Homo sapiens: one gene and its partner. The protein of the gene in region 1 purifies or fractionates together with the protein of each later gene. This does not show direct contact. Each region holds a gene or a part of one and is shown in the gene's direction. Other genes may lie near its edges.

Region 1 (3,748 bases):
GGCCCTGGTCCCTGGGGTGGAGCTGACTAGGGACTGCTGACTTAGAAGACCACCTAGAGGGGTGGCCAGTGGAATCCCCCCAACTACACCCCTAAGAGGGGTAGAGTTCCCATCTGCACCCGCAAGATGAAGCAGAGATGAGGCTGCTTTGGAAGCCCCCAGTCTTGGGCTATTGGTGTGGGGTCGAGAGCCTCCCTGAGGGGTGTCCTGGGCTGCTCTGTCAGAACCCCAGCAGGGAGCCTTGCCTGGCCTCTGACTCACACCCTTGCCCCAGTGGAGGCCAAGGCCTTGAATGACCACCCGGCCCTTGACATCGTAGCTTCGCAGCATCCTCCCTGCGTTGAGGCCACCCTGCGGGCTAAGGGGCAGGTGGGCACCCTTCCATGGGGCTGGGGGCTGAGGAGCAAGGAGGTCTCAGCATGGCCTACTGGTGGGAGACCCACCTCAGGCGCTCCCAACTGTCTCCCTCCCGTGGCCCCTCTGCACGGCCGGGTTCTGATTTTGGTGCAGTGCAGACTTTCAGCTTAACGAGACAAATTGGTATTCTGTGCCAGCCCAGGGATGGAGCGGCAGCTCGGGACGCTCGGGCGGGCAGCTCAGAGGTGGGCAGGAGGTGGGGGCAGGGGAAAGAGGCAGCTTCTGCCTGGAACTGCCTCCCGGGGCCGCCTCCAGCCCTGCCCCTGTCCCCCATGCACCCCTCCACCCTGACAGGTGCCCTGAGACACTGGTCCTGAAGGTCCTTCCACCTTCAGTGCCCTCCCTCCAAGCAGGGTACCCCTCCTGGAGGGGGCAGGGCAGTGGAGGCCAAGGCTTCAGAATTCTAGAGAAGCCCCTCGCCCCCGGTGACCTCCTAACCTTGCTCTTAGGGCTCTCCTCCCACCCATCTGGAGTTGAAAGAGCAGCAAGTCTGGCAGAGATTAGGCAGGAAGAGGTGAGCAGCTGGCTAGGGGCTTCCAACCCTACCGACTCCTCACCCGGGGTCCCTGGGTTCCCGTGGAAGTGTCAGTCAGCCCACAGTCGGCCTGCAACTCATCATAGATGTCCTGAAGATTAGGTGGGTGTACAGACATGCAGACACCCCTGCTGGTGGGCACCTTCTTGAGGCAGGCCCTTCTGCCAAGCCAGCCCCCACCACCACACCCCCCCGAGGGCAGGTGGGGTCGCACACAGGCAGGGCGGGTCGCAGGGGTAGCGCTTCAGGGCAGCAGAGAGCTGCTGCGGGCTCAGCTCCACTGGCCCTGGAAACACAGATGTGTTTAAAATGTGTTGAGTCGACTTCTCCCCATTTGCGACCTTTGCCCCTTTGCCCCCCAGGTCTGGGGGTGCCTTGACTGCAAAGAGGGGGGCCAGAGCCCCTGACCAAATAAGTCCCCCAGAAAGCAAGGGACGACTTGGGGCCATTTGAGCAAAATCCTCCCCTCTCTGCTCCCGTTCTCCCCACCACCACTCTCAGGACCCCCTTCCCTCCAGCACAGCCCAGCCCTACCCTCTCCGTGCCCTTGACATTCCCTCCTGCTTCTGGGGAGCGGGCATATTCCTGGGACTCTGCCAGCTTCGGTTCCTCATGATCCCACGGGAGGAATTAAAACCGCAAACAACAGCGTGGTGGTTCGGTCCACACACCCCCCCCGCCCCCCACTCTCCTCCCCCGTGCCCCCTCCAGAACCGGCCCTCCCTGTGTCCCTCCCTCCCTCCCTCCTCCCGCCCCCATCCCCCAGCCTCCGGCAGCGGCAGGGGCGGCCTCTGCCTCCCCCGAGATTGCATTTTGCCGGCGAGATGCTCTCCTAGAACCGGCGCCGGCGCCTCCGCCCCCCGCCCCCCACCCGCTCGGGCAGGATGGTACAGTCTGCAGAGGGGCCCGGGCACGCTGGCTGGGCTCAGCCGCGGCACCAGCTGCCGCACCGCGATTACGGGGCTGCCCGCCGGGAAACCGTGCAGGATTGGTGGTGATTTTCATAGCCAAGTAAGTACCGGCATCCCCCAGCATGAGAAAATAAAAAATAAAAAGCGCCCCACTCCACTCTCCCCTTCCTCCCTCACCCATTTTATTTTGTTTCATTTCATTTGATTTTTCTCAGTGCTGATGGTGGTGGCGGTGGCAGCGTGGAGGGGGGGTGGGAGCAGGGCTTGTTTATCTGGCAGCAGCCGAGGCTGCACTGGGAGCCGCCGCTGAGGGAGACACTAGTGTGAGGGTCCGCGTGTTGTGGGGGACGGCTGGATGCTGGGGACTAGGACAGGGGGGCCTCGGACAAGCGGATGCCCAGGGTCTCAGGTAGATTCCGGCAGCCTCTGGACTGCAAATGCCCCCTAAGGATGTTATGCAAGGGCCAGCAAGCTGGTGGCAGGGGACAAGGTTCTCTTCTCTCTGAGCCGGTCCCAGGGAGACCAAGAGGACTGGAGGGTGCCCGTTGCCCACCCTGGTCAGAGTCCCAGGAAAGAGGCAGGAGGAGGCCCCTGTGAAGCGTCCCTTTGGTGGGGTGGGCAGCTGTGTGCTGGGACTCATTGGGTCAGGCCAGCCGGGTCATGTGGTGGCAGGGACGTGTTCCTGGGTCCCCTCCATGGCCAGGAGGGTGGCAGGAACGGGTGGCCAGGCCATTTTGCAGCAGTCATGCTGGGTGGTGGAGTCGGCACCCTCTGCCCAGAAGCCCACTTCCTAGGCCAGCCTCAGTGGTCTCCAGCTGAGGGATAGGGCACCTGAGGCTCCTCCCTGCCCCCTGCAGGGTCAGGATGGGAAAATGCAGCAGGGGGCCTCAGGACTCCCTGAGGGTGGGTTGCGGACAGCAGCAACCCCTTTCTAGCCAAGTAGCTATTCCACACCACGGCTGTCCTCTGCTCACCCAGGTTGGGGGTTGGGGGTTGGGGGGGTGCTCTGGACTGGCCTGCCCCAATCAGGCAAGGGCCCTGGGGGTCTCGGGCCCTCCATGCAGAGGCCCAGCCTGGCTCGACCTTCAGAAGGGTAAGTGAGCAGGCAAGCCCGACCAGCCGGCAGAGGGTCTTAGTGCGACGCTGCATGCCCTGAGCCCAGCGTGGAAGGGGCTCCCTCCTCTCCTGCATTGCTCTCCGAATCGCTGGGAGGAGGCAGAGCTGACGTTTGGGGTATTTCCAGGATCAGCGGGCGCCATCCGGAGAAATTCTCCTTTGACGTGTGCAGTAGGAGGGGGCTTGGAGCGCAGGCCTTGGGGGCCTCCGCCTGTTAACTTCGTTGAAGGAGCAGTGGCAAAGAAGGGGCTGCAGCTCTGGGGAGTCCTGTGGGGGGTTGGGGGTCCAGGAAAGATGCTGATGGCCACCATTATTTAGCCACCTTCACACCCTAGTCCCATTCACATCAGGGCATATGCATGCCCACAAATTCACACATATGCACAGATACAAATATAGTACCCATAAGTAGTGCGTCATATATGTCCAAATCATATATACACATATGGAATGCCCATGCCCACACCCCAGCACCTGTAAATACAACCCACGTTCCTGAACACCACATGCTCACGTGCAAAACACAGCACACACACGAATGCAGTACACACATACACACCTGTGCATGCAGCTTGCCCACACATGCATGTAGCACTAACACGGGAAAGCAGTAGGCTGCACACAGTGCCCTGCAACAGCCAGAAATGTGTGTACCCACCTGAGGGCTGGCTCAGGTGTGAAAACAACAGGCACACACATGTGGGGCTCTGAATGCCATCTGCGTGCCTGCCCGTGCATTGGCAGGCACATGGCATGCTGGAATGTGCCC
Region 2 (3,748 bases), about 120 Mb from region 1:
TGAGGCATGAGAATCATTTTAACCCGGGAGGTGGAGGTGGCAGTGAGCCAAGATTGCGCCACTGCACTCCAGCCTGGGCAATAGAGCGAGACTAAGTCTCAAAAAAAAAAAAAAAATATAAGGAATCATGGGAAAGACATTTTACATACCTCTGTAACTTCAGAATGTAGACAGTGACTACCAAACCGATTGTAATGCATAAGTTTGTTTGTTTGTTTTTGAGACAGGAGTCTCACTCTGTTGCCCAGGCTGGAGTGCAGTGGCATGATCTTGGCTCACTGCAACCTCTGCCTCCCGAGTTGAAGCGATTCTCCTGCCTCAGCCTCCTGAGTAGCTGGGATTACAGGCGCCCACCACCATGCCTGGCTAATTTTTGTATTTTTAGTAGAGATGGGGTTTCACCATGTTGGCCAGGCTGGTCTTGAACTCCTGACCTCAAGTGATCCGCCCACCTCAGCTTCCCAAATTGCTGGGATTACAGGCGTGAGCCACTGCACCCAGCCATGTAATAAGTTTCGGTGAGTGAGTGGAGTGAGGGCTCGTTGGAGGATGTGGATGGATAGATGGATGAATTAGAATTGTGGTTTGAGACCTTTTCTTCTTCTCTTTGTCTTCTTTCCCCTTTCTCATGCCTCCAGAATTAAAGATTGTAAAGAAAAATAAAGGGACATGTTTTTAAATATCTTAGCGATATCTTTGTTTTTTTTTTCAATGATGACACTCTTTGTGGCCCAGACCTTTTTAAACTCCCAAGGATTCAGATTTTGAAATTCCAGGTTTGCAAGATCATCTAGTACCTGCACTAGATTTTTAACTTAGGATACTCCAGGATATGCTTTAAATCTGTACCTTCTAATATGTAGCCACTGGCCACATGTGACTGTTGAGCACCTAAACTAGGACTAGTCCAAATTGAGGCATGCTGTAAGTGTGAAGTACACACCAGATCTTGAAGACTTAGTATGGAAAAAAAGAACGTAAAGTATCATTAATAATTTCTTTTTTTATTACATTTTAAAAGATAATATTTTGGATATATTAGATTAAATAACTTAAAATTAATTTTACCAATTTCTTTTTACTTTTTTATTATGGTTACTGGAATATTTAAAATTACATATGTGGCTTCTGTTATTCTATATTTCTACTATATTTCTATTCTATCAATATTTCTACTGAATATATAGAGCATTTTTCCCTTCCCTCTTCACTCTTTCTCCTACCCCCTTACGTTTTCGATCTAATCTCTTTAGATAGTAATATACCTAGTAATGTATCTTCCAAATTGCTTAGGGTGTGTGGTATAGTGCTGCTTTTGAAATGGAGCAGTTAAGTCCCAACCTGGGATCTCCAGACTCTTAACAGTACTTAAAAAAAAAAGAGAGGGACTAATAAAAAACATATTTGTCTATAAAGAAATGCACAGGCTATGTGAAAGGTAAGGTCATAATAAACCCAGCTGGAATTGTGTTAAATCTGTGCAGGATACTGATTGCCTGCTTCTGAACTGTGGGTATGGTTGGCTGTGGATAATGTAGAACATGTAAGAAATGATGGTCTGCTGCATGTACCAGGCCACATCTAAGAGTCTTATTGTTGAGCACAGCCACGTTTACACTGAATATAAACTTTATTCACCATTCCAGGCCTTGACCTTATATTCAGGAATGGCAGCCTGGCATGGTGAATAGAACTTATTAGGGTGCATCGTAGATTTGCTCAGTAGGGGCTCAGGAATTGACACAAATGCTGACGGAGTTGGAACAAGTAAATTATATGTCTGGAAGATAAATATTTAAATAATTAGATTAAGGGTGGAAATGATAAAAGTGTACTTTGTTATAAAGATTGGAGATCCCAGTAAGAGTAATATGCTCTATGAAAAATTGTAAGTTCTTATATTACATTATTAGTTTATGAGTACTTGTTACTGTTTTCACATTTTTGCTTATACTCATACAGTACTCCTACTTTGCTATACTCACACTGGTTTATCTCCCAAGCCTCAGGTAGATCATGCTTCCCTGACTCCCCCAGACAGGTTTTTCCTGTACCCTCAAAACATTTATCAGTGTTCTCATTTTATATTTATGTGTAATTTTACATTATGTTCACCTTTCTCATAAATTTTGCCAGATCAGGAACCGTGTCTTTGGCCACTGTTACATCCCCAGAACGTTGACTAGTGTTTTATGAGTAGAAGATGCTTTGTGAACATTTGTTTGGTTAATTAGGTACCAGTTTGGTAGCCAATATATGATACTAAAGGTTTATATTGTGAACGTGGAACTGTATTGAAACGTTAATGTTATTGCTGCCATCCCCAGGGCAATAGTCTGACCTTGATTGACCTTCCCGGCCATGAGAGTTTGAGGCTTCAGTTCTTAGAGCGGTTTAAGTCTTCAGCCAGGTAAGAAGGAAAGAAGTGAAGTGGGCTTGTCTAGGTCTGTATCTGTATATCAAAGCCACTCATGTGATTTGCTCTGGTGGTGTTTGGGAGGCAGCATGGTATCCTGTGGTAGACCTTGAGGTGACCTTGGGGTCAGCCAGTTCTGGGTTGCAAGTCCACCTTCACCTGGATGATGAGGATTTTATGGGATTAAAATGCTTAAAAAGTGTTTTTTAGTGTTTAGGAAATGTTAACCCTTCTTGTCATTGTTACTAAATGTTTGCATTTATTCTGAAGGTGAATTTAATAATGTATATGACTATTAAAATCTGAAAAAAGAATTTTAAAGCTGGGATGAATCCTAGCAGTTTTTAAATGCCAACATCATTTATATATATAGTGTTTTTTTGTTTTTTTTTTTTGAGATGGAGTCTCACTCTGTTGTCCTGGCTGGAGTGCAGTGGTGTGATCTCGGCTCACTGCAACCTCCACCTCCTGGGTTCAAGTGATTCTCCTGCCTCAGCCTCCTGAGTAGCTGGGATTACAGGCACGCACCACCACACCCTGCTAATTTTTCATAATTTTAGTAGAGATGGGGTTTCACCATGTTGGCCAGGCTTGTCTCGAACTCCTGACCTCATGATCCGCTGGCCTCAGCCTCCCAAAGTGCTGGAATTACAGGCGTGAGCCACTGCACCTGGCCCATATATATTCTCAAATTACGTAAAATTGATGTTTCAAGAAGTACAGAACAATATTTCCATATTTCTTTTAGTGTGTGCTCTGGTGTTACTGACTCTTAAGTTCTTCCCTAAAAAGTCTTATGCTGCAGTTTCAGATGCTTCTTTTTTGGTCTCTAACATTAATAAGAACTGAAGAGGAAAATCAGTATGCCACATTTCACTGATTTGAAGACACATTTTAATATCTCTGAATTTAGAATATATCTTATAGTTGATGGTGTCATAGTTTAATTGGCAGTATTTTCTCTTAGCGGTCCCTAAAATAATGTCTTTAATTGGCAGCATTTTAGTTTTGATGGAATGAAGTAGTAGATTCTTTGCCTTTTATTGAAGATGTCTAGACTGAAATTTCATTATTGCATCTTTGCCCACAAGATGGTGGTGATGAACAATTTGTCACAGATAAGAAAATTCCTTGGACAATTGAGACAAATCTAGAGCTGGTAAATTTTGCCATAATTGGGTTTTTATTTCCAATTAAATGTTTTTTCTTTTTCTATTGCCAGTTCTAAATATTTTATGATTTGCAGTATAACTACTCTGTGATTCATGTATTTTGGGTAAATAAAACATGCAAAATATGAAGATAAAACTTAGTTCAAATAAATTATAATCA

What was found. The genes of interacting proteins can lie anywhere in the genome.
Region 2: the proteins of ATP2B2 (region 1) and SRPRB purify together in Homo sapiens (affinity purification with mass spectrometry; 3 studies listed by BioGRID and IntAct, with this or other methods). This does not show direct contact.

The regions. Positions count from the first base shown.
Region 1 is NC_000003.12:10,503,680-10,507,427, reverse strand, and holds the start of ATP2B2 (plasma membrane calcium-transporting ATPase 2), read left to right. Parts: upstream 1-1,841; 5' UTR 1,842-1,963; intron 1,964-3,748. UniProt on the Homo sapiens protein: ATP-driven Ca(2+) ion pump involved in the maintenance of basal intracellular Ca(2+) levels in specialized cells of cerebellar circuit and vestibular and cochlear systems.
Region 2 is NC_000003.12:133,808,790-133,812,537, forward strand, and holds part of SRPRB (signal recognition particle receptor subunit beta), read left to right. Parts: intron 1-2,327; coding exon 2,328-2,410; intron 2,411-3,748. UniProt on the Homo sapiens protein: Component of the signal recognition particle (SRP) complex receptor (SR). Ensures, in conjunction with the SRP complex, the correct targeting of the nascent secretory proteins to the endoplasmic reticulum membrane system.